4 linked regions of the Homo sapiens genome follow. The protein of the gene in region 3 interacts with the protein of the main gene of each other region in a pairwise test. Each region holds a gene or a part of one and is shown on either strand. Other genes may lie near its edges. The genes, in order: ZBTB14, CREB3L3, CEP19 and ZNF438.

Region 1 (5,726 bases), on a different chromosome or scaffold from region 3:
ATCCCTTAATGGTTCTCCAACCCCTCCTTCCAGTTCCTAGGGCACAGCCCCTTTATGCCCGAGTGCTACAGCCCTTATCTGTTCTAGTCCATATCTGTTCAGAACTGCACTTGATGTACCAGCTACCTACCTGCCACTCTCCCCAACCTGAAAATGCACAAAAGAGGGAACAAGAAAGTTTATTTTTAAAAAATCAATTCTTGGTTTAGGATTTGGGATACAGGAAGATCCTACCTCATTCTTGTTTATCCTTTCCTCTGTAGGTCTGGCGTGCTCCTGATCAGAGTTACTCTGATCTGAAGATTTTGGCGTTCAAGGCATTAAGATAATAGCCTGAGTTGTTCATGGTAACTATAACTTTGGATATTAAATCTTGATGAAAATGACTTGGCATTTGCTTTAAAATATATATACCAATTCTGATTGTGCATGAACACTTCTATTTGTCTGGGGGAAAATATTAGCCGAATAAAAGTAAAACAATGTTTTTAAAAAGGAAACATAGAGAATGCTTTAAGATGACCAGTTTTTTAACATGATGACAGAGATCTTTCATGCCAGTTCCAAATTTTTGCTTATAAAATACTCTCAGCACTTATCAAGTACTTACATCTGGTGTTGATGGCACTTTTATCTGGATGCAGGTAGATTGGCATCTAGAGAGAACAAAGCCACTTCCCAAATGTCATCTCATTCTCTTAAGGTCAGATTAAACCTTGACCTTCATTTAGAAGTGGCCCAAAAGTGCTGTGGAAAATCTAGAACACAACACTCAATGGGATATTTTGGCAGTAATGTTCCTCTCTAGTTCTGCAATAGTAATTTGTTCCTTCTGTCAAGGAGGTATAACATAATTATTTTGCTGAATCCTCCATAGAGTAGATGGAATAAGAGTAGGTGCAACAGAGAGGACTAGAGGATTGTTCCCTTGAACCTGTTTCTTAAAACTTGAGTTTGAGTTATTTGATTATCTCTAGTCAGGAAGCACTGGTTTTGCAGCCAGATTGTCTGCATTTAAGTCCCAGCTCTTCACTAAATAGCTATAGAATATTGGGCAGATTTCTAACTTTGTCTCTAAAATAAGGATAGTGATACGTACTCATGAGGTTACCTGAATATTAAATTAATTAAAACATGTAAAGCACATAGAACAATGCCTGGGATATAACTAGGCAAATACTTAGTAAATTGAAGATGAACAGGAGTAACAATATGGAGATCCTTGAGTTGGGATCAGTCTTTTCTACCCATATTCAAAGACCACTCTTAACATTGACTTTCTGAAATTGTTAGGTTCCATAGATTGACCAGGAAATGAAAATGTGACTGTGTTCTCTATATGGAAAAGTACTATTTATAATTACTAAACTTTTTTTTTTTTTGTAGGAGTTTTTCATCAGTATGTCTGAAACCATTAAATATAATGACGATGATCATAAAACTCTGTTTCTGAAAACACTAAATGAACAACGCCTGGAAGGAGAATTTTGTGATATTGCTATTGTGGTTGAGGATGTGAAATTCAGAGCACACAGATGTGTTCTTGCTGCCTGCAGCACTTACTTTAAAAAGCTTTTCAAGAAGCTTGAGGTTGATAGTTCTTCGGTCATAGAAATAGATTTTCTTCGTTCTGATATATTTGAAGAGGTCCTGAACTACATGTACACAGCAAAGATTTCCGTGAAAAAAGAAGATGTTAACTTAATGATGTCATCGGGTCAGATTCTTGGTATCCGATTTTTGGATAAACTGTGTTCTCAGAAGCGTGATGTGTCCAGTCCCGATGAAAACAATGGTCAGTCCAAAAGTAAGTATTGCCTTAAAATAAATCGCCCCATTGGAGATGCTGCTGACACCCAGGATGATGATGTAGAGGAAATCGGGGATCAGGATGACAGTCCTTCTGATGACACAGTAGAAGGCACACCCCCGAGTCAGGAGGACGGCAAGTCGCCCACCACAACGCTCAGGGTTCAGGAAGCGATCCTGAAAGAGCTGGGGAGTGAGGAAGTTCGGAAGGTCAATTGCTACGGCCAGGAAGTAGAATCCATGGAGACCCCAGAATCAAAAGACTTGGGGTCCCAGACCCCTCAAGCCTTAACATTTAATGATGGGATGAGTGAAGTGAAAGATGAACAGACACCAGGCTGGACAACAGCCGCCAGTGACATGAAGTTTGAGTATTTGCTTTATGGTCACCATCGGGAGCAGATTGCCTGCCAGGCGTGTGGGAAGACGTTTTCTGATGAAGGCAGATTGAGGAAGCATGAGAAACTCCACACGGCGGACAGGCCATTTGTTTGTGAAATGTGCACAAAAGGTTTCACCACACAGGCCCACCTGAAAGAACACCTAAAAATCCACACAGGATATAAGCCCTATAGCTGTGAGGTGTGTGGAAAATCATTTATCCGTGCCCCAGACTTAAAGAAGCATGAGAGAGTTCACAGTAATGAAAGACCGTTTGCGTGCCACATGTGTGACAAAGCCTTCAAACACAAGTCTCACCTCAAGGATCATGAAAGAAGACACAGAGGGGAAAAGCCTTTTGTGTGTGGCTCCTGCACCAAGGCATTTGCCAAGGCATCTGATCTGAAAAGGCACGAGAACAATATGCACAGTGAAAGGAAGCAGGTTACCCCCAGTGCCATCCAGAGCGAGACAGAACAGTTGCAGGCGGCAGCGATGGCTGCGGAAGCAGAACAGCAGCTGGAGACGATAGCCTGTAGCTAGAGGCGGTGGGACAGGGACACTTTGCCTGGAAAGTGGAGACTGAGATGACGTGGATCATAATGAGTGAATGCCAGTTACAATATTTTTGTGGAAACGTATGGAACATTGTACTCACTGGACTTAAGGCAGTGCTTGGTTAGCTATTTTTAAGACTTTTCAAGGAAATGGTGTTCCTCAGTTCTGACCAAACCGTTTCACTGTCTTGTCTGGTGTCTAGTATTAATGTTGCCCAGTAAGCACCTCTCTCCCTTTTTTTTTTTTATTATTTTAATTTGAGAACTCCTGTGTCCAGTTTAGAAGTGAGAGACTTCCATTTTTAGTTCCTTTACACTCACCACCCTAGCAAGTGCCCTGCACAGAGTAATAAGTAAATTGATTTCCTAATCACAATTCTATGTGACTTATGGTCAAAAGAGCAGTTTTAATAACTTTAAAAGTACTTCAGATAGACGCAGAAAATTGGTGAGTGGTTGACCAAGAACACTGCACAAATATAAAAAAAGTTCTGGAAATGCAGAATGGCGTTAGATTTATATTTGGTTTGTTAATTTTATATCACTGTTTTTCACTGTTTTTGTGGACAAATAATGGTTGCTTTGCTGAAGTGTTCTTCCTCAATCTTGATTGCCCTGTACCTACCCAAAAGCTGTAGTCACACATCCTAAAGGCCAAGCAAACCCACCGGGATGGTGGGGGGTCTTGGAGCCAAGCTCTTAGGTTCCTCTTATTTGGGGCAGTACCAGTCCATACCAGCTGCGATTTGTGAGTGGACCTGTGGTAAGAAGAATAGAAAAGGCTCTCAGAGATAAGGTTTTTTACATGTGTAACAATCCCAAGATTTCCTAGATTAAAATCTTAATTGATTTTGAAATTGGATTTTTATTTAGAATCAAAATTAGGACAAGAACAGATAACTTCTTCAGATACATTTGTGTAACTTTACAGAATGTCATCAAGCTTTGGGGCTCTGTGGGGCACATGATTTATCCATAAAGGAGATGCAGTATGCTTACTTAAATTAATAAATTTAAAATCTTTTAAGTGTGTAAATAGTAGTGTTGGTCTTACGTATTTCAAGTAAAAAGTAGACAGCTGCACTTTTTTTGCACATTGGATTAAAATAACTTCCATCAGCAACAAACATCAGACTGTTTTTAACAAATATTAAAGATTGTCAGACCAAATGTTTATGTTTTCGAAATATATTTCATCACTGGTTACAGTTTTAAATAGAAGTTGATTGCCTTTTCATAGCCGTAAATGAGAATTATAAACTCTATTCCAGTTTTGGTATACTAAATGTTCTTTTAACCATCTTTAGGAATATATTGAAATGCCAACAATAGTTTGAATTGTGTTCTGTAAAAAAGTATTAGTCAATTATTTTTCAAAATGTAGAATTGTAGAAAATGTCAATTTTTCAAACTCATTTTTCATTGCTAGGATTTCTTTTAAAAAAATTAAAGTAATTTCACTTCATAGCTTGTTGCATTAACACCTGTAATTCTATTGTGAAAGAAATTTGATTTTTTAATTGGTGTGTGTTATGCCCAAGATGTTAGGATGAAGATGCTACCTTTTTAAAAATTTTAGTTATTGGTAAAATGTTTAATTTTACTTAAAATTAATTTCTTTTCTTGAAAGTTGTTTATTCTGTTCTAAAAGTAGTCCTGTCACTGTGTTTTTATGCTACTTATAGAAGGGGAACTGATTGCCGTTCCTAGGCTGTTTTAACCAAAGCAAAGGAAAAATAATTTTAACATCTTGTCAATAGCTACTTCAACAAACCATATTTTGGGACTTCATTTTTTGTATATAAAAGAAAATATACTTCTATCATTCCTCTTTTCATTTTTTCATAGCAACCTTCCACATACCTAGATTTCTACCAAAATGTATTTTGTATGCTAGCTTCATCCTGGCTTTACAGAGTTGAAGTTAAACATGTGATATTAACCTCCTTTGAAACCACATAGTCATGGTGGTAACCCCCAAAAAGAAAGGTTAATTTTCAGCAGTCTATGTGATGCAAATATTTATCATTTAGCCTATTTTGCATGAGAAATGTATTTGTGTTATTTCTGCCACTGGTACTGGGTTTACACGTGTGTTAGGGCACCTGTTTCCTTTATATATTTTTGGTGGCAGCAGAATCCTATCATGGCAGCTCTCCTGTCTGCTGGGTCCTGGTCAGTAACACTGCCTCTCTACACCTGGCTGGATTTGGTAGTCCTCTGCATAGTGGAGCCATCGTGTTAGAGTCTTCAAGTTACCTCCAACACCCTAGGGAGTTAATTCTGAAATGTGGTTACTCTGAATCTGTAATGTAAGAGGAAGGTCAAGGCTAAGTGTCAACATTACTACCTTTTCATTACTTACAAATCATTGACTTTTTTCTGTTTTTACAGAGAATGCTACAAACTTGATGTTAGCTTTTGTGCTTAATTTGCATTGTATTGGCACTGATTGAGGAAGAGAAATTTAGGAAGTTTAAATGTAAAGTAATTTGCCGGCCATTAACTTGATCACTAATTTAGAATTGTTAGAAAATACAGAGGTCGCCATCAAGTGAGGTTGACACTAACAAATTCACCCTATTTTGTTAGGAAAAAAAAGACAAGATGAGGGAAAATGATGCAAATTTATGTAGTTTCCAACTTAATGGGTTATTTTGTGTAGTTATCTGTAAGTCATTTGGAAGGTGGGATTCATTGTCACATAGTAATGCTATTAGTGGTGTTTTGTTCTCAGGATTAGCAAGCCTTAGGGTGCAATTGTAGTAGAGCTGGCACATAGTAAGGATTGTGGTGCAGGGTTGAGTCCTAGGCGGAGGCAGAGAACTGTTACAGCAAAGAGAACGGAAAGCTCTCACTCCCTTTGAAGTCTGTCTCCATTTTTGCTTACCCTCTTGTAACTGGAGCTCTTTCCCCCTGGGAACTATTTATAATAGGGTTAATCCTGCATCTACTTAAGGTATGTAAAGATAGCATGTT
Region 2 (8,496 bases), on a different chromosome or scaffold from region 3:
AACCTTGTATCAAAACAAACAAACAAACAAACAAACAAACAATGATGTGTTAGCAATAAAGTGACAGAGAGTCTACAGAGGGAACATGTACTTAAACACATTGCTGAAAATGACTGCAGGAATTTTACTTTAGATTCCAAGTTATTGTCCCTTTGAGATACGTAGTCGTGTTCAGTGGATAAACTGCTATGAGGTCAATGGCAGTGAAAAGTCCTTCTGTCCCCACAAGAGCTTCTTTTTCTTCTTCTTCTTCTTCTTTTTTTTTTTTTTTTTGACAGAAGCTTTCTCTGTGGCCCAGGCTGGAATTTAGTGGCGTGATCTCGGCTCACTGCAACCTCTGCCTCCCAAGTTCGAGTGATTCTCCAGCCTCAGCCTCCTGAGTAGCTGGCATTACAGGCGAGTGCCACCACGCCCAGCTAATTCTTGTATTTTTTAGTAGTGACAGGGTTTCGCCATGTTGGGCAGGCTGGTCTCAAACTCCTGACCTCAGGTGATCCGCCCACCTCGGCCTCCCAGAGTGCTGGGATGACAGGCGTGAGCTACCATGCGGGCCAAGTGCTTATTCTTATCCTCCCTGTTAACAGATACCTGAAATCCCTTCATTGAGGTGTACAAAAGGCTTCTAAAGTTCATAATAATAAGTATTGTTATTTTTGAGAAAAAGTCTCGCCCTGTGGCCCAGGCTGGTGCAGTGGTGCAGTCACAGCTCATGGTAGCCTCAAACTCCCAGGCTCAAGCGATCCTCCTGCCTCAGCCTCCCAAGTAGCTGGGACTACAGGTGTGCACCACCATGCTTGGCTAATTTTTTTTTTTTTTTGAGACGGAGTCTTGCTCTGTCGCCCAGGCTGGAGTGCAGTGGCGCGATCTCAGCTCACTGCAAGCTCGGCCTCCTGGGTTCACGCCATTCTCCTGTCTCAGCCTCCCGAGTAGCTGGGACTACAGGTGCCCACCGCCATGCCCAGCTAATTTTTTGTATTTTTAGTAGAGACGGGGTTTCACCGTGTTAGCCAGGATGGTCTCGATCTCCTGACCTCGCGATCCGCCCGCCTTGGCCTCTCAAAGTGCTGGGATTACAGGCGTGAGCCACCATGCCCGGCCCTTTTCTTTTTGATAGAGGGTCTTGCTCTGTCACCCAGGCTGGGGTGCAGTGGCATGATCTCGGCTCACTGCAGTCTCCACCTCCTGGGTTCAAGTGATCCTCCTGCCTCAGCCTCCCGAGTAGCTGGGATTACATGTGCCCGCCACCACATCTGGCTAATTTTTGTATTTTTAGTAGAGACGCGGTTTCACCATGTTGGCCATGCTGCCTGGCTAATTTTTTAAACTTTTTTGTAGTTATGAGGTCTTGCTCTATTGCCCAGGCTGATCGGGAACTCCAGGGCTTGAGCAATCTTCCCGCCTCAGCCTCCCAAAGGGCTTGGATTACCGGCATGAGCCACGGTGCCCGGCTCCAGCAGGTTTTGATAAGAGAAGGGGGAGTGATCTCTCTCGAGGGCACTAGAACTCCCAAGAGTGATAAACGGGGTGAGGAGAGGCAGAGAGGAGTCCAGAAGTCAAACATCACCTACTTGATCCACCCACTGTGATGGCCCTGGAAAAAAGCCTCCACGGCAAATGCTGAATAAATATTATGACTGGGATCACTAAAGCCAAGCCAAGGCAAACAACCCCTCTAAAATCCAACACAGAGCAGATAAAAGGAGATCAGAAAAATGTAGAGGTCAAGGGCGAGATAATTCTAGTAGCACCCAGACAGGGACAGGTACCGTTATCGGGGTCTCTTCTTGGGCCCCGTGGAGCTTGGGGACCCGGATCCTTCTATGGGGTGGGGCCATCCTGGGCACTGGAGGTTGCTGAGCAGTGTCCCTGGCCTCCACCCACCCCGCGCCAGGGCCACCCCCCTTTGTTGTAACAACCACAGATGTCCTCAGACATCACCCAGTGTCCTCGGGGGAGTGTAAAATCACCCTGGGTGAGCTCCCCTGGGTTAGGGGATTCCATGGACCCCCAAGAGACTGTATCCCGTGATGCTCTGCCCTGCTGAGGTCCCAGGAGGCTGCACACATTGAAATCCATGCCCTGAATGGGGAAGGAGGGAGGAGGTGAATCCCAGGATCTGGGGTTCCCCTGGTTTATACCGTCTGCCCTGTTGGGAGTTTATTCTGGTGTCTGGTGTGAGCAGGGAACCCACTCAATTTTTTCCCAAATAATTAATGCAGTCTTTCTCCCCCAGATCCCGTGGCTGTGGGGCAGGATTGCTTTCTGGGGTGGGGCCGTCCTGGGCACTGTAGGGTGCTGAACGGCATCTCTGGCCTTCACCCATTCTATGCCAGGAGCATCTCGCACTCGTGACAACCACAGATGTCCCAGACATTGCACAGTGAGTGTCCTGAGTTTCCGTCCGGAAGGTTGAGGCTGCAGTGAGTTTTTTTTTTTTTTTTTGAGATGGAGTCTCGCTCTGTCACCCAGGTTGGAGAACAGTGGCACCGATCTCGGCTCACTGCAAGCTCCGCCTCCCAGGTTCACGCCATTCTCCTGCCTCAGCCTCCCGAGTAGCTGGGACTACAGGCGCCCACCGCCACGCCCGGCTAATTTTTTTTTTCGTATCTTTAATGGAGACAGGGTTTCACCGTGTTAGCCAGGATGGTCTCAATCTCCTGACCTCGTGATCCACCCACCTCGGCCTCCCAAAGTGCTGGGATTCCAGGCATGAGCCACTGTGCCCGGCCTGCTGCAATGAGTTTTGATCACAGCACTGCACTCCAGTCTGCCCTAGTGGAGGGCAAGTGCAGTAATGTGAGTTAGTGTTGGATAAAAGAACCATATCGTGTGTGGCATATGGTAGCCCCTTATTGAATTTTGATTTCATGAATACATATGAGTGATCCATTGAAAAATATAAACCAGGCCGGGCGTGGTGGCTCATGCCTGTAATCCCAGCACTTTGTGAGGCCAAGGCGGGTGAATCACTTGAATTCAGGAGTTCAAGACCAGCCTGGCCAACATGGTGAAACCCCATCTCCACCAAAAATACAAAAATTAGCTGGGTGTGGTGGTGGGAGCCTGTAATGCCAGCTACTCAGGAGGCTGAGGCAGGAGAATCGCCTGAACCTGGGAAGTGGAGGTTGCAGTGAGCTGAGATTGTGCTACTGCACTCCAGCCTGGGCGACAGAGCGAGACTCTGTCTTGAGAAAGAAAGAAAGAAAGAGAGAAAGAAAGATAGAGAGAGAAAAGAGAAAAAAAGAGAGAGGAAAGAAGGAAGGAAGGAGGGAGGGAGGGAGGGAGAGAAGGAAGGAAGGAAGGAAGGAAAGGAAGGAAGGAAGGGGAAGGGAACCAGGATGTGAATTTTTTTAGAGCAAGGAGGGCACATAAATTACCCCTCTCAACCTAGCACATGGCACAGTGTCCAGCAAACAGAAAGCTTGATTTAGTCTCCTATTTGCTAAACTTCCAACAGTGCCCTGCTGTTTAGCACAAACCAAACTCCTTGCCACAACACACAGGGCTTTGCACGACCTGCCCCGTCCCCTCCCTGCCTTCCCCTCCTCCCTGCCTTCCCCTCCTCCCTGTCTTCCTCTCCTGCCTGTCTTCCTCTCCTCACTCTGCTCCAGCCACAGGGGTCTCATTGCTGTTCCTCCAATGCGCTAGGCACGGACCTGCCTCAGGGCCTTTGCACAAACTGTGCCTCTGCCTGGGACACCTTTCCCCAGACCTTCCCAGGGCCAGTTCCATCTCATCCTTCAGGACTGCACTGAACATGTCATTTTTTTTTTTTTTGAGACAGAGTCTCACTGTCGCCCAGGTTGGAGTGCAGTGGTGTGATCTCAGCTCACTGCAACCTCCGCCTCCTGGGTTCAAGTGATTCTCCTGCTTCGGCCTCCCGAGTACTGGTATTGCAGGCATGTGCTACCACACCCATCTAATTTTTATATTTTTAGTACAGATGGGGTTTCACCATGTTGGCCAGGTTGGTCTCAAACTCTTGACCTCAGGTGATCCACCCACCTCGGCCTCCCAAAGTGCTGGCATTACAGATGTGAGCCACCACGCTTGGTCTAATATGTCATCTGCTAAAGGGGGACTTTGCCTGGGCACAGTGGCTCATGCCTGTAAATCCAGCACTTTGGGAGGCTGAAGCAGGTGGATCATTTGAGCCCAGGAGTTTGAGACCATACTGGCCAACACAGTAAGACCCCATCTCTATAAAAAAAAAAAAACAAAATTAGCCAGGTGTGGTGGTGCACGCCTGCAGTCCTAGCTACTTGGGAGGCTGAGACGGGAGGATCACTTGAACCCAGGAGTTGGAGGCTGCAGTGAGCTATGATCCTGCCACTGCACTCCAGCCTGGGCAATAGAGTGAGACCCTGTCCTCCACCAACACCAAAAAAAAAAACAAAAAAACAAAACAGGGCTCCTCTCTCTTGGTAGGGGGTGGAGGGGAGGTCAGAGACACCTCTCAGCCACCCGGGCTGATTCACAAATATCGAACATTCACTAAAATGTCAATACAGTGACCTAGAGCCAGAGGGGAAGAGGGAGGGTACAAGAGGAGAGTTCCAGGCAGAGGGGCGAGCAGGTGAGTAGGTGCAAAGGCCCTAAGCAGGAACCAGTTTGGCTCCATAAATATTTGTTGACTCAATGAACGATAGAAGATTCTAGAGAGAATTGATTGCACAGAATCACCCATGGGGACTCAGAGGCGGAGTCCAAGCTGGTTTCGGAGGGGGCTGGGGGCCGGAGGTTGGCAGGTGGGGTGAAGGATGGGAGCCGCTAGCTGCTGGCAGGAAAACTGGCTTCAGTGAAGATCTGGTCTGGTCCTCTTGGTTTGTTTCTGTCCAGGGAGTGGACAGGACCCATGTAAGGGCCCTGGGCTATCCCAGAACCCATCTGGGAATTCTGAAGAGAAAAAGTCCTGTAACTGGCCGGGTGCGGTGGCTCACGCCTGTAATCCCCGCACTTTGGGAGACTGAGGGGCCGATCACGAGGTCAGGAGTTCGAGACCAGCCTGGAAAACATGATGAAACCTCGTCTCTACTAAAAATACAAAAGTTAGCCGGGCATGGTGATGGGGACCTGTAGTCCCAGCTACTCGGGAGGCTGAGGCAGGAGAATCACTTGAACCCAAGAGGCAGAGGTTGCAGTGAGCCGAAATGAGATGGCACCACTGCACTCCAGCTTGGGCCACAGAGCGAGACTCCGTCTCAAAAAAGAAAGAAAAAAAGAAAAAGTCCTCATAAGTAGGGCAGAGGTCACGGCAGAGTGGAGGTACCCCAGACTTCGACCTTTGCTCACTGAGGGCTGGAAAACCACAAAACACCCAGATAACGGTCTTCCCTCCCCTGCTCCTGCCTGCCCCAGTGTCACTGGCCCTCAACCCTGTCTCTCCACCCTGTCCACCAATCAGCACCTGGAGGTGGGCTGGGAGCTGCCTGTGACCGCTTCAGCATCTTTTGGGAGTGGTGACAGAGCCACAGAGGGCTGTGAGCTTGCCCGGCCCCAGGTAACGCTGGCGGTGGGTGGGCCTCCAGCTTGGAGCAGAGACCCCCCGAGGCATCTGCAGACAGAACTGGATGGACCCATGAATACGGATTTAGCTGCTGGAAAGGTGAGCCCTACTAGGTCCCCAGGGAGAGCGGGAGTCTAGGCTGGGAAAGCCTACCCAAGCTGCCAGAGCTGGAAGGACCCCATCTCCACCCCTATTGTACAGATGGGAAGACTGAGGCCCAGAGAAAGGATGCAATGAGCAAAACTGTGTGCCTTTGCCCCGGGGCTGCCCTTGTCTTTCTTCCAGGTCCCCCTGCCTCCTAGGAGCGGGCACTTGGGGAGGCTGTGAAGGCCTGAGAGGCAAGCGGCATCTCTAGCTAGGGCCTCTCTCCAGCACTTTTTATTTTATTTTATTTTATTTTTATTTTTATTTTTTGAGATGGAGTCTCCCTCTGTCACCCAGGCTAGAGTGCAATGGCACGATCTCAGCTCACTGCAACTTCCACCTCCTGGGTTCAAGAGATCTTCCTGCCTCAGCCTCCCAAGTAGTTGGGATTACAGGTGTGCACCACCACGCCCGGCTAATTTTTGTACTTTTCCTAGAGACAGGGTTTCACCATGTTGGCTAGGCTGGTCTCAAACTCCTGACTTCAGGTGAGCTGCCCGCCTCGGCTTCCCAGAGTGCTGGGATTACAGATGTGAGCCACCGTGCCTGCCATACTTTTTTGTTTTTTGAAACAAGGTCTTGCTCTGTGACCCAGGGTGGAGTGCAGTGGGGTGGCCATAGCTCACTGCAGCCTCAACCTCCTGGGTTCAAGGGATCCTCCTACCTCAGCCTCCCCAGTAGCTGGGACGACAAGTGTGTGCCACCGCAGCCAGCTAATTTTTTTAAATTATTTGCAGTAGGGATAGGGGTCTCTATGTTGCGCAGGCTGGTCTTGAACTCCTGGGCTCAAGTGATCCTCCTGCCCCGGCCTCCCAAAGTGCTGAGATTACAGGCATGAGCCACCACATCCAGCCTCTCCAGCACTTTAAGAGAAATTGGCTCTCACACTGTGGAATTCTCTCTATCAGCCTCAAAGTCCAGATTTGGAAAGGGAGTCTCAGCGAGGGGCAGCAGCTGGCCCAACCCGGAGGCAGAGCGGCAACTGAACTCTAGCCGGAAAGAGCCAGGGTTATGTGCACATGGGAGGTGGGGAGGACAGGGGCTGTATGTGACCCTCACATCTGTTCCTCGCGCCCCAGATGGCTTCTGCTGCCTGCTCCATGGACCCCATCGACAGCTTTGAGCTCCTGGATCTCCTGTTTGACCGGCAGGACGGCATCCTGAGACACGTGGAGCTGGGCGAGGGCTGGGGTCACGTCAAGGACCAGGTGAGGAGTCCACTGCAGTTGCCCCGGGACCACAGAGCTCCAGGCGGGCCAACTGAGGCCCCACGAAGGTGCTAGACCCGCCAGAGCCCAGCCAGAGCTCTGCTCAGCTCTACGATGCACTAATGGGTCACGGTGCTTGATTTTAGCCAAGCACATCATTTAGCGGGTAGCATCAGCTCCTTCTTACAGGTGGGGAATGGAGGCCCAGAGCAGGGTGGAAACTCATCCAAAGTCACACAGCAATTTGGAGTTAGGTTCAAACTCAAACTTGGGGCATCTCCCTGGCTAGGTTCGGTTCTCTTCTCCTTCCTCTCCTTCCTTTCTCTCTTTCTTCTTCTTTTTTTTTTTTTTGAAGGAGTCTCGCTCTGTTGCCCAGGCTGGAGTGCAGTGGTGCCATCTCGGCTCACTGCAACCTCTGCCTCCCGGGTTCAAGCGATTCTCTTGCCTCAGCCTCCCAAGTAGCTGGGATTACAGGCGCCCGCCACTGCACCTGGCTAATTTTTGTATTTTTAGTAGAGATGGGTTTCACTATCCTGGCCAGGCTGGTCTTGAACTCCTGACCTTGTGATCCACCCACCTCAGCCTCCCAAAGTGCTGAGATTACAGGCGTGTGCCACCGCGCCCGGCCCACTTTCTTTTTTTTCTTTCTTTTCTCTCTCTTTTTCTCTTTCCTTCCTTCCTTCCTTCCTTTTTTCCTTCCTTTCTCCCTCTTTCTTTTACTCTCTTTTTTTTTTTTTGAGATAGAGTTTCACTCTTGTCACCCAGGCTGGAGCGCAATGGCGCGATCTTGGCTCACTGCAACCTCCGCATCCCAGGTTCAAGTGATTCTCCTACCTCAACTTCCCGAGTAGCTGGGATTACAGGCAGCCGCCACCACGCTCGGCTAATTTCTTGTGTTTTTAGTAGAGATGGGGTTTCACCATGTTGGCCAGGCTGGTCTTGAACTTCTGACCTCGGGTGATCCACCTGCCTTGGCCTCCCAAAGTGCTGGGATTATAGGCGTGAGCCACCACACCCGGCCCTTTTTTCTCTTTCTTTCTCTCTCTCTCTCGTTTCTCTCTCTCTCTCTCTCTCTCTCTCTCTCTCTCTCTCCCCCCCTCTCTCTCTGTCTCTCTCTCTCTCCCCCTCCCTCCCTTCCTCCCTTCCTCCCTTCCTTCCTCTCTCTCTCTCTTTCTTAGACAGAGTTTCGCTGTTGTTTTGCCCAGGCTGGAGTGCAATGGTGTGATCTTGGCATACCGCAACCCCCACCTCCCAGGTTCAAGTGATTCTCCTGCCTCAGCTTCCCGAGTAGCTGAGATTACAGGCATGTGCCACCATGCCTGGCTAATTTTGAATTTTTAGTAGAGACGGGGTTTCTCCCTGTTGGTCAGGCTGGTCTCAAACTCCCGACCTCAGGTGATCTGCCCGCCTTGGCCTCCCAAAGTGCTGGGATTACAGGCCTGAGCCACCGTGCCTGGCTCTTTTGTTTTTCTTTTTTTCTTTTTTTTTTTTTTTTGAGATGGAGTCTTGCTCTGTTGCCTAGGGTGGAGTGCGGTGGCGTGATCTCGGCTCACTGCAGCCTCCGTCTTACGGGTTCAGAATCTCCTTCCTCAGACTCCCGAGTAGCTGGGACTACAGATGCCCGCCACCACGCCCAGC
Region 3 (9,478 bases):
TATAGCTTTTAGATAGCAGTAGTGGTATTAATAAAATATTAAGACTACAAATAAAAAACATTTGGAATGAGAGAAGGGAATTAATATTATTGAATAATGCTATATCATTTAACCTAGGCAGCAATCCCAAAAGGATTATTAATTATCAGATTGGAAAAAAACACTACAATTCCCTTTTATAGATTAGGAAACTGAAGCTCACTGAGAGTAAGTAATTCATCCAGTGTCACACATCCAGTCCCTGACAGAGTCATGATGTGAACCTGTATTTAGAGAATATTTAAGACAGGAGGCAAGATAAGACATGAGGTACCTGAAAACTTTGAAAAGTTTCGAACTGGCATAATGCGCTGGCGAATTTTCCCCTTGATTTCACTCTCATAGATTAAGATAATAGCTGGAGGCTGAAACCTAATCCCACATTTCTTGGCAGTGCACATCATTCCCATGTACATGTCCGGGTAAGTCAGAGGAAATCTGATGAATATGTGTAAGTTGCATAATGACTTCCTGCTAAAGGGAAAAAACAACTAGGTGTTGGATAAATGTCATTCATTCCCCTCGCCCCTTTGCCCCAGAAGATCTGGTTCTAGTCCGGCTCTGGCCACACACGCTCAGCCTGTGAAACTCATTTTTTTTAAAATTAAAATACGGACTGCTTCATGAATTTGTGTGTCATCCTTGCGCAGGGGCCATGCTGATCCTCTCTGTATCATTCCAATTGTGGGGTATGTGCGCGGGAACGACCACAAAGCTCAGTTATTTTGAGAACTGCCCTGAAAGTTCAGCTTGGCCCTGGGTTAGTTTCAACCTGTTGGATCCCTAAGATCTGGTTTTTTCAAGGATATAGACTTGTTCATATGTGAATCTGGGGATGCAATCCAGTTTGAACCTCTTAGTGTACTGCACTCTTACTGAAGATCGAATATGAACCCCTAAGTCAGCCCAATAGCTGACCTATAGGGTCTTTACTATTTATCAATTAAGAAAGGGCATATCGAGCATCCTCGGTATCAAGGTACTATGATAAGGTAAGTTTTTTAACCTTAATCATTTTGTCCTGAGAGGTTCACCAATCCAGAACTGTCTCCTTTGTACTTTCCCAATTATTTTACTAGAGTTTTTTGTCATTATTTATTTAATCATCTATCTTCCCTTCTAGTCAATATGCTCCATGAGGGTGGGGGGCATATTCATTTTCCACCACAATATCTCAGCATAATACCTGGAACGTAGTGGGCATTCCATACATTGTTTAATGCTATGAATTAACATGATGGTCCCTGTACATTTTTGAAAGCATTTACAGTCTAGAAGCCTGATCAAAAAGCAGACCTGCTGCAGAATCAGCTTCTTCATATACACGTCAGTAACGTCTGCAGCTACATCATATACATCACATATCTCAGCTTCTTCATATACAATAGTCAGTAATGTCTGCAGGGCTTTTATTTTGGCCTGTGTGTCTCACTATATGATAATTTTCTAGCTACAAGAAACAGCTATTTGTAGATGAATACTTACTATTCTCTCTTCCTTTCCCCACCCTCAGTGCCCAAAGAATACACTTAACCCTAAGCACTGCTTTTGATGTGACTGTGACATTCCCAGAAAGATTTGTAAATGTCAAGAAACATTGAGGTAAAGTGGCATAGGGTGATGATATCTTCGTGAACTCAGTTCTGCTGGAGAATCACTATTAGGAACATACTTTTTATTAAATACTTAGCAGTGATTATACACGTCATTGTAGAATACTGGGGGCAAAGGAGAGGGGAAACCTATAGAAAATAATCACCCTTGATTGTGTCCAGTCTTTTTTCTAGGCATATAGTTTATAGTATGTTTCATACATACCTTATCATACAAGCTATTTCCTGACGTTCAAATTTAACAACATATATTATTATTTTGTCATCAAATGTTTTACTACAATGTAACATTTTATATGACTGCTAAATGTTTTATTTTATGGATGTACTATAATCATATTATTCACCACTTATTGTTGGGCATGAGAATTTTTACTCTTAGAAAATTAATCACATATAAGCCCAGGCACAGTGGCTCACCCCAGCCAGCACTTTGGGAGGTCAAGGTGGGCAGATCATTTGAGGTCAGGAGTTCGAGACCAGCCTGGCCAACATGGTGAAAACCACGTCTGTACTAAAAATACAAAAATTAGCTGGACATAGTGGCAGGTGCCTGTAATCCCAGCTACTCGAGAGGCCAAGGCAGGAGAATCACTTGAACCTGGGAGGCGGAGGTTGCAGTGAGCTGAGATGGTACCACTGCACTCCAGCATGGGTGACAAGAGCAAGACTCCATCTCAAAAAGATGGAGGCAGGTGTGGTGGCTCAGGCCTGTAATCCCAACACTTTGGGAGGCCAAGGAGAGGAGATACCTTGAGGCCAGGAGTTTGAGACCAGCCTGGGCAACACAGCGAGACCATGCATGTCTCTACAAAAAATTTAAAAATTGGCCAGGCATGGCAGCATGCACCTGTAGTCCCAGCCACACCAAAGGCCAAGGTGGGAGAATCGCCTGAACCCAGGAGTTTGGGGCTGCAGTGAGTTGAGATGGTGCCACTGCACAACAGCCTCTCCAAAGCATGATACGCCTATTCTTAAAAAAAAAAAAAAAAAAAAAAAAAACTACTTTAAAAAATTACTGTGCTCTACCTCTAATCTGATGCAATGAGCTCACACCATTTCTCCTTCTTTTCCTTCTCTTTTCTTGCTTTTTTTTTTTTTTTAACGAATACTATTCCCAATTCACCTAACTAAAATTTGATGTTAGTAAACTACAACCTACGGGGCACATATAAACTCCACACACTGAAGCAATGGCTGTACTCGTCAAAGATGTATGCAGTTGGTACTCAAATAATGTAGTTTTTTTTTTACTAGACTCTTTTTAAAATTTAACTTTAATTTTTGCTAAAGTAATGTTTGTATTTGGAATATAAAATAATTCTATGAGGCTTATAACAACAAACTATCGTCCTTGGCCCTACTCCTCTTCATAGGGAGCCAGACTGAATTTTAAAAGGCATATCTTCCAAAATTTCTCTCTCCATTTCTTAAGAAACATGCTTATACTACCATTTTCAGTTTTTTTTTTTCTTTTGAAACAGAGTCTCCCTCTGTCGCCTAGGCTGCAGTGCAGTGGCGTGATCTCCCCTCGCTGCAACCTCCGCCTCCTGGGTTCAAGCGATTCTCGTGCCTCAGCCTCCCGAGTAGCTGGAATTACAGGTGCCTACCACCATGCCCAGCTAATCTTTGTATTTTCAGTAGAGACGGGGTTTCGCCATCTTGGCCAGGCTGGTCTCGAACTCCTGACCTCAGGTGATTCGCCCAAAGTGCTGGGGCTATAGGCGTGAGCCACCTGCCCGGCTATTTTCAGTTTTGGATAGTATGTTTTGACATACACTCTGTTTCCTCTTTGAGACACCCGCTCTAGAGCCCTCTATTCCACTCCAAGCCGCCTGGATGCTCTCTTGGCCTGCTTACAGATTCCACTCTGTTTAGGAAGAAGGACGGCACGTTTATCCAATTATTCTTCCTGGACACGAATACTCCTCTCCCCAGAGATCAGTAACTGCCCACAATCTTGTTAGGAAGCCCCACAGCACCTAAGGGTACGAATGTCCCCAAAGAGTAGACGATTCTCTCCCTACTCACGTCTCCACTAGTGCAAGGCTGGCTTTCTTACCCTTAGAGGAATACAGAAATGACATCGTCTGCAGGCCAACGTCTAAACAACCAGGAGTGGGTTTTTCCACCCAACCGCAGTGCACGCAAAGCCCCTAAGCCGACTGTGAGACCGGGCGGAGCCTGGCGCTGCAGGAAGAGGCGACAGCCACAGCCCTACTGACGAGCCCGAGGGGTGAACTCCCCGGCGGGAGGCCCGAACCCTCAAACACCGGGAAGCGGAGGTGGGGGCCGGCTGGGGGACCGGTCCACCGGCTCCCACCTCGGCGTACAGGGATTCCAGGTCCCGGCGAGCGCTGGCCTAGCGGTTTCCACAGCGACAGGCCGGGCGCGCGTCCCCGCGCGTGCGCAGCTCCTCGCCCGCCCCCGGGTGGGCGGAGCAAGGAACAGCTGGGCGGGGACGACCGCCCCACGCCGCGCGGGAACCCTTGGGGGCCGGGGCTGCAGGCAGCTGGGAACCGCGGGCGCTAGGCGCGCGCACCCAGCACTCGGTCCCAGCCGATAAATCTGGGGCAGCGCGCGGTAGGAGCTGCGGGCGGCCAGGCCCCTTCCTGCGTCCGCACCTGGCCCCGCGCGCCCCTCTCGGGCGTCCGGCTTCCGGCGTCCTGGCGGCTCGGGTGGCGGCGGTTCGGGCGGCCGCCTGGCTGCTCCTCGGGGCGGCGACCGGGCTCACGCGCGGGCCCGCCGCGGCCTTCACCGCCGCGCGCTCTGACGCCGGTAAGGGGGGCGGGGCTTGGGGGGCCAGAGCGTGGGAGCGGTCCCGGCTCCCGGGCCTCTCGGCGGGTTGCGGGGATGTGGGGACCCGGCGCGGGACCTAGATCAGTAGGGCGAGCCGGAGGAGGTCAGACACTAGAGCCGTGTGCCCTCCTTCCCTCCCGTGCGCTTTGCTCTGCGGCGGATCCCGGGTCTCCGGGAGAGTCGGGCTCGGGCCCTGCGGTTCCCAGGCTGGACTGGCCGCCCTGTTACTAAAGTTCTGAGAAGGAAAGTCAGCCGTCAAGCGTCTTGGGATGCTCTTGAGCTGCACGAAGCTTCTGATCACCAAGGGGCCAGGCAAGGCCTTAGCGCCCTGTGAGGCCTGAGAATCCCCAAACTGAATGTAGGACTCCGTGGCAAACTGCTAGTTGTTCGTGCAAGTAGTAGTTGGCAAACTGCTTGTACTACTGAGACGGGCAAGTGCGGGAATAATTACAATAAAGGGTAAGGTTTGATGGGAGGAAAGCACAAACCCTACAAGTTTCTCCATCTGTAAAATGAGGATGTTTCTGTCATCCTTGGTATCATTTAGATCCGTTTAGTATCTGTCAATCAGTGCAGTTCTGCTTGTGTGTTTACATATTGGGTTTTCAAGTTTATCTAAACAAAGGATTATGAGGCCAAGAAGATTTTTTTTTTGAGATGGAGTCTCACTCTGTTGCCAGGCTGGAGTGCAATGGCGCGATCTCGGCTCACTGCAACCTCCGCCTTTCCCAAGTTCAAGCAATTCTTCTGCTTCAGCCTCCCAAGTAGCTGGGATTATTACAGGTGCCCGCCACCATGCCCAGCTAATTTTTTGTATTTTTAGTAGAGACGGGGTTTCGCCGTATTGGTCAAGCTGGTCTTGAACTCCTGACCTCAGGTGGTCCACCCTCCTCAGCCTCCCAAAGTGCCAGGATTACAGGTGTGAACTACCATGCTCGGCCAGAAGAATTTTTAAACAGTTGGATTTGGTAATCTGTAGAGGCTTCCAACGTTAGCATTTTATAATTGAAAAGGGGTCAAAATTAGCGGGGCGTGATGGCGTGCCCCTGTAGTCCCAGCTACTCAGGGGGCTAAGGCAGGAGAATCGCTTGAACTAGGGAGGCGGAGGTTGCAGTGAGCCGAGATCGCGCCATTGCACTCCAGCCTGGGTGACAGAGGGAGACTCTGTCTCAAAAAAAAAAAAAAAAAGGAAAAAGAAGTCAATTTCCAGAGCCAGTTCACCACTACCAAAGTAATAGTTAAGAGGAAAAATGTTGAAGGTAAATTCACATTCAACAAATTCGTTTTAAAAATGGTACTTTTGCCTTTAAAATCATGACATTCTAGTATTTGCTGTACTATTTGTAAATTAGCCTTTCTCCGGTCCCAATGATCAACTGCTGTCTGGTGTACATACCAGTAGAATTTAAGCCTGTTCATAATTTTTCTTCTAATTTAATTTATAGTTGGATAGCAGTCCTCACTTCCCACCCTACCCCCATTAAAATTAAACAGGATGAAGAAAGATCTGGATTTGTGCTGGGCACAGTGGCTCACACCTGAAATTCTAACACATTGGGAGGCTGAGGTGGAAGGATTGCTTGAGGCCAAGAGTTCAAGACCAGCCTGGAAAACATAGCAAGACCCTGTCTCTGCAAAAAAATTTAAAAGTAGCCAGGTGTGGTGGCGTGGGCCTATAATCCTAGCTACTTGGGAGGCCGATGTGGGAGGATTGCTTGAGCTCAGAAGTTCAAGGCTGCAGTGAGCTGTGATCATGCCACTGCATTCCAGCTTGTGTGACAGAGTAAGGCCCTGTCTCTTTTTTTTTTTTTTTTTTTGAGACGGAGTCTTGCTCTCTTGCCAGGCTAGTGCAGTGGCGCAATCTCGGCTTATTGCAACCTTCACCTCCCAGGTTCAAGCGATTCTCCTGCCTCAGCCTCCCAAGTAGCGGGAACTACAGGTGCACACCACGACGCCCGGCTAATTTTTTGTATTTTAGTAAAGACGGGGTTTCACCATGTTGGCCAGGTTGGTCTTAAACTGTTGACCTTGTGATCTGCCTGCCTCCCCCTCCCAAAGTGCTGGGATTACAGGCATGAGTCACTGCACCCAGGCTATTTGTTCTTTTTTTTAAGAGGCAGAGCCTTGCTCGGCTGGGCGCTGTGGCCCATGCCTGTAATCCCAGCATTTTGGAAGGCCAGGGTGGGCAGATCACCAGGTCAGGAGATCGAGACCAGCCTGGCCAACGTGGTGAAACTCCATCTCTACTAAAAATACAAGAATTAGCCGGGCGTAGTGGCGCGTGCCTGTAGTCCCAGCTACTCTGGAGGCTGAGGCAGGAGAATTGCTTGAACCTGGGAGGCAGAGGTTGCAGTGAGCCAAGATCGTGCAACTGCAGTGCAGCCTGGCAACAGAGTGAGACTCCGTCTCAAAAAATAAATAAATAAATAAATAAAAATAAAAAAAGAACAAATAAAAATCTGGATTGGTACAAGATACATATGGAATTTGGGGATTTGTTTATTCAGGAAAAGATCATATGCTTCTCCAAAGCAAATACAATTTCTTTTTTGAGGGCTGGAGATTTTTCAGTGAAATGTAACTAGACAAATTCTCGAAGAGCTGTAACACTAAAATTTCATTCAATTTTAGTGTTGAAAGTGGAAGTATCTTAGGCTTTAAAAATCAGGCAAACCTTTCTTCTAATCGGTCACGTAGTTAGTTGTATGACCCAGGGCCATTTACTAATGCTTTAGAAGTTCAAGTTTCCTCCTGCAAACAAATGGCAGTGATTTTGCTTATTTTGCTATAGATCGTGAAAGTTAAAACACATATGAAAGCACCAAGTAGAGGATCTAGCATGTTAGATATTATTTAACCAGTTATTTTTTTCTATTCTTTTTTCATTCCTTCAAATAGTTTCACCTTCACATCATTTTTCTTAATGCATCTTTTCAGAAATACATCTAATGGATTCAGCAATATTCAATGATAATAACAGGATTATGTAAATAATATATAGTTTTCTGTATGTGTTTGGGGTTTGTTTGTTTGTTTTGAGACAAGGTCTGGCTTTGTCACCCAGGCTGGAGTGCAGTGGTGCAGTCTCTGCTCACTGCAGCCTCCCTCTGCCTCCTGGCCTCAAGCCATGCTCCCACCTCAGCCTCCTAAGTAGCTAATTTTTGTATTTTTCTTAATGGAGATGGAGTCTTGCTATGTTGTCCAGGCTTGTGTGTGTTTTTTAAATGTTCTTCCCACAGATTTACAGCTTTTGAAATGGGACAAAGTTCCATAGCAAATGCCTGGCAGAGTTGCTGGTCAATAGTAACTGAATTTTCAGTTTTAAGATGCTTACATTGAGTAATAGTTTTCTTTTTTTGTGTTTAGAGACAAGGTCTCTCTCTGTCACCCAGGCTTGAGTGCAGTGGTATAATCATAGCTCACTGAAGCCCCCATCCCCTGGGTTCAAGCAATCCTCCCACCTCAAGTGCGAGCTGGCACACCTGGCTCAGAGTAACAGCTTGAGTGTCTGGAATCTGGATGAAGTCAGTATACTGAGATTTGTGCTTATTCTAAGTTTACAGTGGAACCCGTTGAACCTTTACGTGCCTCCAGCTTTGCTTTTTGTTTTTTTTTTAAACCTTCCAGCATCTCCACAAGGCATAAATGTACCATTTTCCTGGTTTTGTAGGCATGGATGTTAGAATATAGAAGTTGCCAGTATGTATCTATCTGATACACAGTTTCAGTGAACAAGGATTAAAATGGAGATTTCCTGGCTCTTTAGCCATCCTGTTCCTTTTTGGTATCTTGGGATCACCTGAATAAAGTAATATTAATAAAAAACACTTACATAGAACACTTAATATGTATTCTTACTACTGTTCTAAGTGCTTCTACTTACATTAAATTCTTACGACAGCTAGTAGAGAGATAAACTATCTTGCCCAAAGTTAACACAGCTGTTAAGTTACAGACTGGGATTTGAAATCAGGCAATCTAACTCCAGAGTCACTGTTCTTAACCACAGTGCTATATTGGAAGTAGATTTATATATATATTTCAAATTGCTTAAATTTTAAAAGGTTTTGTTTTTAGGTTGGTTAGATTTTCTAGGCAAGTAAAGCCTACTAAAATAACTCTTTTATAATTATTTAAATATTATTTTATTCAGTGCTTTTGTTTTTAAAAAAAAATCGTTTGGTTCTTATAGGCATAAGGGCCATGTGTTCTGAAATTATTTTGAGGCAAGAAGTTTTGAAAGATGGTTTCCACAGGTAAGTTGCCTGTTGATTTCTATTTCTATTAAAATAATGTGTCATATAATTGAGAGCAAAAAATTGATGGTTGAAATTTGTATAAATTGAAAAATCAGGCCAGATGCGGTGGCTCTCATCTGTAATCCCAACACTTTGGGAGGCCGAGGCAGGCGGATCACAAGGTCAGGAGTTTGATACCAGCCTGGCCAACATAGTGAAACGCTGTCTCTACTAAAAATACAAAAATTAGTTGGGCATGATGGTACACACACCTATAGTCCCAGCTACTTCAGAGGCTGAGGCAGGAGAATCACTTGAACCCGGGAGGTGGAGATTGTGGTGAGCCGAGATCATGCCACTGCACTCCAGCCTGGGCAACAGAGTGAGACTCTGTCTCAAAAAAAGAAAAAAGAAAAATCACTTGCTTCCTCAAAGTTACTCAGTGATGGCATATGTGGTTCACACTTTGAAATAATGATTAACTGAGTGGAGCAAAGAAGAAAACAAGTATGTATTGTTTACCACGTACAGTTGTCCCTTGGTATCTGAGGGGATTGGTTCCTCCTGGACCTCCCCTGAGGACACCAAAGTCCTCAGATGCTCAAGTTCCCTATATCAAATGGCATAGTACTTGTATAGAACCTACACACACCCTCTCATATACAGAGGTTGTTATATATATACAACTAGTGCCTATATATACAATATTCCATTTAATCTTCACAGTGGCATGAGATAGATGATTTTTTCTTATTTTTCAGATGAGGGAGGTAGAGCTCAAACAATTTA
Region 4 (8,529 bases), on a different chromosome or scaffold from region 3:
AGGTAATAGAACTGGAAAAACTCATCACTTCAAAAGGACAGTCAAATATCAGAATTTATTTCATTTGGTAAAAATTCTATCATTGCCAAATAAAGCTAATGCAAATATAGTAAAATATGCATGATTTTGAGTAATTCTTTTGTTGAAAAGGACTCTTGGGGAGCCTCAACTTCATCCTGCAACAGCTTAGGCATTCTTTTGCCCCTTTGCCCTTTTCATGCCCCATCTCACAAGTCATGGAAGCTGGGGAGGGGAGGGTGCAGAAAACCCAAATGAACTAATCGGCATGTATTTATGCATTTAGTCTACTCTAATTTTATTCCCACAGGTTTTTCCTCATACCCTGCTCCTCTAAGGTAAAGAACTGTTTTATTCATCTCTGAACTTCCAAAACCTAACCAAATGCCCATTATATAAAGTCATCCCTAACATCTACTACACAGCAGGCACTGGATTAGGGACTAGAGATAGAGAAGTCAAAGAGACAGACCTTGCCCCTACGGAACCTACAGTGGGGAATACCAGATACTGGCTGCATGAACCCAGTCAGGTCGTAATCAAAGACCAGTTAGCACAGTCCCACTGCCTATAATCTTTCTCCCACAGACAACCAAAGCTTAGATGAAAAACAAAAGCATGCTTTCTCTTCAGAAAAATAAATGGGTATCTCCAACCCTGACCACTCCCCTGAGTTCCATATTCACAGGCATGCATACTCAACATGTTCACTCGGAGGTGGTTACAGGGATTCAATGCATGGACTCCAAAGCCACAATGCTTAGGTTTGAATCCTAGCTACATCACTCACCAGCTGGGTGACTTCAGACAAGTCACTTATAACCTCTTTTTGCCTCTATTTTCTCGTGCTGTAAAATGGGGACAATAATGGTTCCTTGCACATATAATTCTTATGATGATTAAATGAATTAATATAGGTTAAAGTACTTAAAACCCTGCCTGGGACTCAGTTTACGCTTACATAATACTATTTTTACTAGCACTGTTGTTATGACTATGTCTAACAGGCATTTAGAACTTGTGCAAAACTAAATTTGTAATTTTCCTCAGTAAACAGCACCACTATACTTCTAGTTGTTCCAGCCTAAACCTAAAAAATCATCACTTCTCCCTTTTCTTCAAATTCCACATCAGCTCGTTTCCCGTCAGCTCTACCTTCAAAACGTATCACCAATTCTACCGCCTACCATCATCTCCACAACTAACCTCCCCCAGCCCAAACCACCATCATTTCACCTGCAGGGCACAGCAGCTTTCTCCCGATTTTCACTCCATCCGACCCACTCTAATCTACAGTTAATTCTCCATACAATAAAACTTAAATCAGACACCAGTCCCTTGATGCAAACCTTCCAATGGTTTTCCATCACAGTTAGAACAACATCTTTACTTCACCACAGCCTACAAGGGACCCCACGGCCTGCCTGGCCCTTGACCATCATTGGCCACTACTTTCCCCGTTCCCGGCTGTGCTCTAAACACTCTCACTGTGTCTGGACCACCTCAGAGCATTGTCCTGTGCTGTTCCTGCTGTGAGGCCGAAAATACAGTCACCTGGAGCCTGGACTCTGAAGTCAGACTGCCCACGTTCAAATAGTCTCTACCACGTTTTAGCTGTGCAACTTTGGCAAATTCTTAACCTTTCTGTGTGTCAGTTGCCTCATCTATGAAAGGGAGATACTAGGTTACATCAAAAGACTTGTAAAAATTTAATTTAGTGTTCAGAATAGTGCCTTACATATGGTAAGCTCTACTTTTTTTAAGTGTTCATTGCTATTAATTATTCCTCTCTGAAATGTTCTTACCTCAGGCTCTTTCCCTCACACTTCAAGTGTCCCTGCCTTTGAATGGCTTTTCCTGACAGATCCCACCAAAAACAACCTTCCCTGTTCCCCCACTGTCCTCCTTTCTTCCTTCCCTTCACTGCACTTATGACTACCTGAAATTACATTATGCACGTATTGTTCGTTGTCTATTTCCCACTGCAATATGAGCCCTGCTAGGTTGGAGGCTGTCTTCTTTGCTGCTCTATTTCCAGAGATTTCTGACTCACATCTCATCCAGGCTAGGGGACCAATGCGAATCTCCTAATAACAATAGCACACTTAGCCTTTCATTTGCACTCTCGTGATCTCATTTGATCCTGGAAAAACCAACAAACAGATAAACCATCGGCTCTCATTTTAGATAAGAAAAACAAAGTTCCAAGTTTGCGTGACTTGTCCTTGGACACGAAGCTAGTTAACGAATAGAACAAAAATTAGAAGCCCTGCTTTCTGATTCAAAGGCTCTTCCTACCTGGATGAAAAGATATCACACTCCTGAAATGAATTTACAGAAATGTGAACTCTCGAGCTCCTGTATAAATACACCCTGAAGTGTGCACAGTATTCTTCCCTTCAAAGTTCCTGAAGACTACTAGTCCCGGAGTTTGAGAGGCATTATAGTCTAGTAATAACTAATCGATAATGTAGTACCCCTTGACCAAAATATTCAAGCAGTCAGATACGATGATTGGATATTCCAAATCGATACAGCAATCCTTAAAACTCAGTGAGTCTGTGTTGTCTATAATGTGCTAGTTCCAGCACACTGAAAGCTTCCTCTGCAAAACCCAGACAACGGGGGCATTGTAATTGCCAAGAGTACCGTGCTAACGATACCTGTTATTTCTTGGGATCCCCATTCTATCAAGTTTAGTGACAACAGTTCGATCACCCAACAGGCTCCAGTGTGGTATAGAATCAGATGGAGGGAAGGTTGTCGGGGGGAGGCAAAACAGTGAAAAAGTTCCCCTTCTACAAGATTCCTGGTCAAATAGCCAGTGGCTACCACATTCCTCAGAATAACCAAGTGTCTGTGTATAAGCTTTCTCCTAGCAAATTTACACACTTGTGTTATCTCACGTGTTCCTAGTGCTGTGGGAACAACCATTAGGGAGGCCAGAGGCTGCTGTACCTCCCTTTTACACAAAAAAGAAAACTGAGGCAGCAACTGGTTATCTTATAAATGTGTCCACGATGACTTGGTCACTTGTGGGATCCCAACGGCCAGGACATAGGATTCCTATTCTCTGAGAGGAAGCTTCCATCCCCTACTTAACATGTCAAACTCCAAGGCTGAGAGGGGGAAGAAAAGGAATCTAAGTCCCTTTATCACGGAAGAAAAAAAGGGACTCTCCATTTGGACTTTCCGCCCCTTCTAAGGCCTCGCTCCCAGGCTCGGAGACGCGCCCCGCCCCAGGGGAAAAGGTGCTGGCCCGGCCCCACGGGGCGCGGCCTCGCCTCCCGCACCCCAGGTCCCTACCGCCCAGCAGGGCGCGCTGCCACTCTGAGCAGACACCTGTCCCTTCGCCACAATCGGCGACTCCCCAAGGAACTGACGCCCCCAGAGCCACCACCACCGCCGGGACTGCCAGCTGCCAGCGGGCCCCGCAAGCCCTAGGAGCTGCAGGAATCCTCGTAAACTTACAGTTTTCCTACAGCGTGCGCGTCACAGCGGGGTGACGTCACGGGCCCAGCAGTCGGGGAGGTCAAGCCACGGGGCGCGGGCCGCTGGGCCCCCAGGCTCCGCCCTCGCCCCGCCCCGGCGCCGCGGCGGGAGACACGCCCCCGAGCTCCACGCCCTCGAGCTCCACGCACCTCCCCGTAGCAGACACCCCGCGCAGGCGCAGACGGCCTCTGCGCCCGCATGCCTGTGGGCTTCGCCGACCGGGGCGCCTGCGGCGGCGACTGCTCTACCAAAGCCTCACTCAAAGCCTGAAGTCGGGGTTAGAGGAGGAGGAGGGGCCGACAAAAGGGGACGGAGACCTTCAGAAATACTGTAAACAAGCTGTCGCCCTGGGGGCTGGAGTAAGACGCCTGGGTTGTGAGGTAGTTTTTCCACAGACATTGCCCGCCTTCCTCACGTGTTCGTTAAAAGTTCTCCACGTGTGGAAACAGCCATTTGCTCTCCATCAGGTGCTGGCGGGTCCTCAGCCCTGAAAAGACAGCTCTCCCAGGGTCCCTCGCTCCTCCCCGGCTCGACGCGGCTCCCGCTAGACTCCGCCCAGACCCCGAGCAGTCCCCGCCCATCTCTTGACTATGCCCCTCCCACGCCCACTTAGGCCTTGCCCCTGGGTCCCGCCCTTCCGGCTCCCGCCCCTGGCTCCCGGCTCCCGCGGGCCCCCACCTGCCCTTCTTGCCCTGGCGCCGCCTCCAGCCCAGCCCGTTTCTTGCAGATTTTAGCTTCTCCCTTGCCTGCCGCCTTTCCCGTTTCGGCTCGGTGAAGCTACCTATGGGTTGCTGTTCATTTAACAAACGGTGATCCGGATAAACATGTTCACTTCTTCGCCTGGGCAAACTTTCCAGCCCCCGACCCACTCATGTCACGATACCTTCCCGTGTCCAAGTCCGGCTCTCTGCTCCCCACTTTTTTTTTTTTTTTTTTTTGAGACAGAGTGTTTCTCTGTCTCCCAGGCTGGAGTGCAGTGGCGCGATCTCAACTCACAGTACCCCCTGCCTCCCGGGTTCAAACGATTTTCTTGCCTCAGCCTCCTGAGTAGCTGGGATTACAGGCGCGCGCCACCACAGCCGGCTAATTTTTATGTTTTAGTAGAGACAGGGTTTCACCATGTTGGCCAGGATGGTCTCCATCTCTTGACCTCGTGATCCGCCCGCCTCGGCCTCTCAAGGTGCTGGGATTACAGGTGTGAGCCGCCGCGCCCGGCCTCTTTGCTCTTTTATACTCTCAGAAGCAATGAGTTCTGGTTAAAAAAAAGGGCTCGATAGACGGAAAAAATGAAGGCTTAAAGAACTGACAACAAAATATTAACATTTGGCTTGTGGAATTCTTACACTCTCGTAAGCAGAAAAAACAAATGTTATGGCAAAAAAGTGTCTCAGACAAATCCGTCTTGGGGGGAAAAAAATTAAAAGAATGAGAAAAACAGACTTCGGAATAAATAGACCCAAAGGAGGAAGTATTGAAAATGGCAAGATTCACTTTTACAAACTTATTTGGAACCACGGCAGATGGCCAGGGCAGGGATTTTGCAAGGCAGCTCCAGTTGTAAGTAAAACCTGAAACAATGGTTTATTTCCACTCTCATTGAAAGTGCTGTCTTATTTTTACAGGAAAGAGTGATGATGGGAATATTAGGCTTTAATTCGAGATCTGAGCTGGTTAAAAATAAAAACGTTTATTATTCCAGAAAAATCTACGTCAGTGTTTTTAAATGTTCTGATTTGAAAAAATATTTGTATATTTTATCTGAATATTAGTTATTATCAAATGATGTAAAAGAAATTTGTAAAGGCTGTACCATAATTGTAACAATAAGGTTTTTCTGTAGAGCAGAGGTATAGAAAAATTAACATTTTTTAAAGTCCTGCATATTTTTAAAACAGTGATATTTATGTTTTTCCTTGCAAAACAATTTTAAGAAACCTTTAAATTGTTAATAGTTTACATGCTTATAAAATGTTTTATATATATCATTTCTAAAAATCGTAATTTTTTTAAGTGAGTTTCTAGGTATACCTTATGGGAGTGTTTCACAGGTACATGTCATCTGTTATTTTTTGGAGTGGAAATGGGTAAGAAGCATACACCAAATGTATCAAATGTTTTTACTATAGATACTTTTGCCTCTGAAAGATGGCATTGTAGAATATAGTCTTCTCATCGTATTGTTCAGTATACTTTCTCTTGAAATCTCAGGTATTCAAAAAAAAAAGTCGTTGTTTTGCTAGATGCAGGAAAAAAGTAAACGCAGTGAACAAAAGATGGCCAACAGTAAAGGTACCCAAGCAAGGATCACAGTCTCAAGGAATGTCAAGTAGAAATTTGTGGGAAAATACCACTCACGTTCAGTCAACTTTCTGTAACAAACTGGAATTTGACCTAGACAGGAAGTGAGAAGCTAGGGCCAAAAGTGTTGTTATTAAAGAGAGGATCTGCTTTTTTAAAGAAAATAAAACCCTGGACCTTGGAGGTTTAGCACTGGAAGCACTGAGGCCCTCCACTATGGCCCTTGGGCTTTCAGTTCCCCCTTGTGATTCTTTCTCTTTGATATCTGCTGCCCATAGCAATCTGGCTTCCAGAGCCCTCTATGTCAATACACACATCTCTTCCCTTGGTCCTGCTTAGCAAGCTAAGAAAAGCTGAATTAAGACAAAACAGAGTACTTAATGTATGGGGAAAATAAAAGTGAAAGAAATATAATTCCTAATATTTCCTGAGTATTGATTCTGTGCCAAGCATTGCATTATTTCCTTGAATTCTTGCAACTAGATAAGAACTGTTACTATCCCCATTTTAAACACAAGGTAAGTAGGTTAAGTGCCCATGTCACACAGCTGCTGAGTAACACAGTCAAGATTCCAGACTTCATACTTCAGAACCCACAGCCATAACCACTAATCTGTCTCAAGTTTCATACAACCAGGCACAAATTATGCAAGAAACAGAGGGACTTAGGAAGTCCAAAATATGGACTTAGCTCTAAAATACTGACCACAGTGTATGGGTATCTTCTTCACTGTTTTCCATCCCATCTTTGCATGACTGCTTTTATTTGATTTTTTAAGGTGGTCATCATGACCCAGTAAGTTGATTTTGTGATCGGTTAAAGGGTAGCTACTCAGAAAAACACTAATCAGAATCCAAAATACAAAATATCAGATTGTATCACATGTAATAAGGGTATTTTTTTCCCAACACAAATTAGGGGAAACTTTCAGCCACATGTGTGTATTCTGGGTTGCAACGTTAAATGTATTTCATACTATGGATTTCAATCAAAAAAAATTTGAAAAACACTATTATAACCACGCCTTGCCTAACTAACATGCATCATTTATCCTTCAGGATCAAGACCAAGGGAAACAAAATCCCATTCTGCAATCCCCTTACATTCCTCTCTTAAGTCCCAGGATCTGGTTTGATGATCTCTTCCCAGGTAATTGACATAAAAATCAGGTCACTCCTGATTAGAGATAGGCCCTTGTCTCCAACTCAAACCCAAGAATATACTAATAACAACAAAATAACCATCTATAAAACAAGAGTTACACAGGTTAAAAGGGGGCTTATTCTGCCAAAGGAGCAGAGATAGAGACTTTGCTGGAAGAAGACCTGGGACAGAGATTGGAGAGCTCTGGAGGGATGTCTGTTTAATAACAGTCTTACAAGTCTGCAGTTACACAGTTTGCACAGTATTTCATCTCATTTTATCACCTCCCTTCCCTCATCATTTTACTTAGCTAATTCTCCCCAATCCTTTAGGTCTCTACTTTGCAGGAACTGACTCTGAGAAGCCTTCCCTAAGCAGCTTTGGCTCTCTGCATTGCAAATTATTTTAATTGCTTCTTCTCCTAGACTGTAAGCTCTGTGAGAATAGGGGAAATGTGAGTCTTAACCTCGAATCCTCTACATGTAGTATCCCAAATAGATTATCAGTTAATATGTGTAGAGGAATGCGTGGTGAATGGATGGATGAACTCGAATTCAAAGACTGGGTAGCTTTCTTACTCAAGATGCTAGTTATTTTCTAAAAAGGGGATACTGTCAATAGAAATAATTCTGATGAGAAAATTCCTTTAGGAGACAAGTCATTTTGAATGGCAATGCAGCATAACATAGTAAAGCACTGAACAGGGCCAGCTCTGTTATTAACTGGGTACTTTATGGCAAGTCCAGTAACTTCTGCAAGCCTCAAATGGGGTTAGACTTACTAAATATTACTTATTTATTTTTGAGACAGGCTCTTGCCCAGGCTGGAGTACAATGGAAAGACCATAGCTCACTATAACCTTGAACTCCTAGGCTCAAGGGATTCTCCCACCTCAACCTCCTGAGTAGCTGGGACTGCAGGCATGCACAACCACATCTGGTTATTTTTACTTTTCATAGAGATGACATCTGGCTGTGTTTCCCAGACTGGTCTCGAACTCCTAGCCTCAAGCAATCCTCTCGCCTGGGCCTCCCAGAGTGCTGGGATTACAGGCATGAGTCACTGCTCTGGGCCTCACTAAATGTTATCCTTGATGAATGTCCTAACAGGATGTTATCCCTCTGGTAACTCGGAAATCAGAGCAGGCCACCTGGAGCCTTATTTACATGAGGTCTCCTGAAAGACACTGACAGCCACTGGGGGATAGCAATTAATTCTCTTAAACAAAGGATGTTAGACAAAGGCTGTCCCCAACAAGAAGGGGTGGAGGGAAGCGAGGAGGGAAATGGAAAGACAAGGAACCTGTGTCCTTGTTCTGAGAAGCCCAGTTCTTGATTTGAGTACAGGGCCTGGAGCATGCTTCTGACTGTAAAACGGAAAGAACCAAACTGTCCTTGTGCGTGTATTGGGATTGGAGAACAGGGAAGAAGGTACAGGAGAAAAGATACCAAAAAGATTTCTGGCCAGGCACGGTGATCATGCCTGTAATCCCAGCACTTTGAGAGTCCTAGGCAGGCAGATAGCTTGAGACCGGGAGTTCAAGACCAGCCTGGGCAAACCCCATCTCTACAAAAAAT

What was found.
Region 1: the proteins of CEP19 (region 3) and ZBTB14 interact in binary tests that used the Homo sapiens proteins (3 or more experiments, as listed by UniProt).
Region 2: the proteins of CEP19 (region 3) and CREB3L3 interact in binary tests that used the Homo sapiens proteins (3 or more experiments, as listed by UniProt).
Region 4: the proteins of CEP19 (region 3) and ZNF438 interact in binary tests that used the Homo sapiens proteins (3 or more experiments, as listed by UniProt).

Annotation. Positions count from the first base shown.
Region 1 is NC_000018.10:5,287,865-5,293,590, reverse strand, and holds the end of ZBTB14 (zinc finger and BTB domain-containing protein 14), read left to right. Parts: intron 1-263; 5' UTR 264-344; coding exon 345-347; intron 348-1,386; coding exon 1,387-2,733; 3' UTR 2,734-4,569; downstream 4,570-5,726. UniProt on the Homo sapiens protein: Transcriptional activator of the dopamine transporter (DAT), binding it's promoter at the consensus sequence 5'-CCTGCACAGTTCACGGA-3'. Binds to 5'-d(GCC)(n)-3' trinucleotide repeats in promoter regions and acts as a repressor of the FMR1 gene.
Region 2 is NC_000019.10:4,148,170-4,156,665, forward strand, and holds the start of CREB3L3 (cyclic AMP-responsive element-binding protein 3-like protein 3), read left to right. Parts: upstream 1-5,461; 5' UTR 5,462-5,578; coding exon 5,579-5,605; intron 5,606-6,729; coding exon 6,730-6,858; intron 6,859-8,496. UniProt on the Homo sapiens protein: Transcription factor that may act during endoplasmic reticulum stress by activating unfolded protein response target genes. Activated in response to cAMP stimulation. In vitro, binds to the cAMP response element (CRE) and box-B element.
Region 3 is NC_000003.12:196,708,215-196,717,692, forward strand, and holds the start of CEP19 (centrosomal protein of 19 kDa), read right to left. Parts: upstream 4,037-9,478; 5' UTR 3,740-4,036; coding exon of another isoform or gene 3,715-3,739; intron 514-3,714; 5' UTR 444-513; coding exon 314-443; intron 1-313. Other genes in the region: PIGX (GPI alpha-1,4-mannosyltransferase I, stabilizing subunit isoform 1 precursor), read left to right, coding at 4,319-4,430, 8,644-8,707. UniProt on the Homo sapiens protein: Required for ciliation. Recruits the RABL2B GTPase to the ciliary base to initiate ciliation.
Region 4 is NC_000010.11:31,028,344-31,036,872, forward strand, and holds the start of ZNF438 (zinc finger protein 438), read right to left. Parts: upstream 3,523-8,529; 5' UTR 3,490-3,522; intron 1-3,489. UniProt on the Homo sapiens protein: Isoform 1 acts as a transcriptional repressor.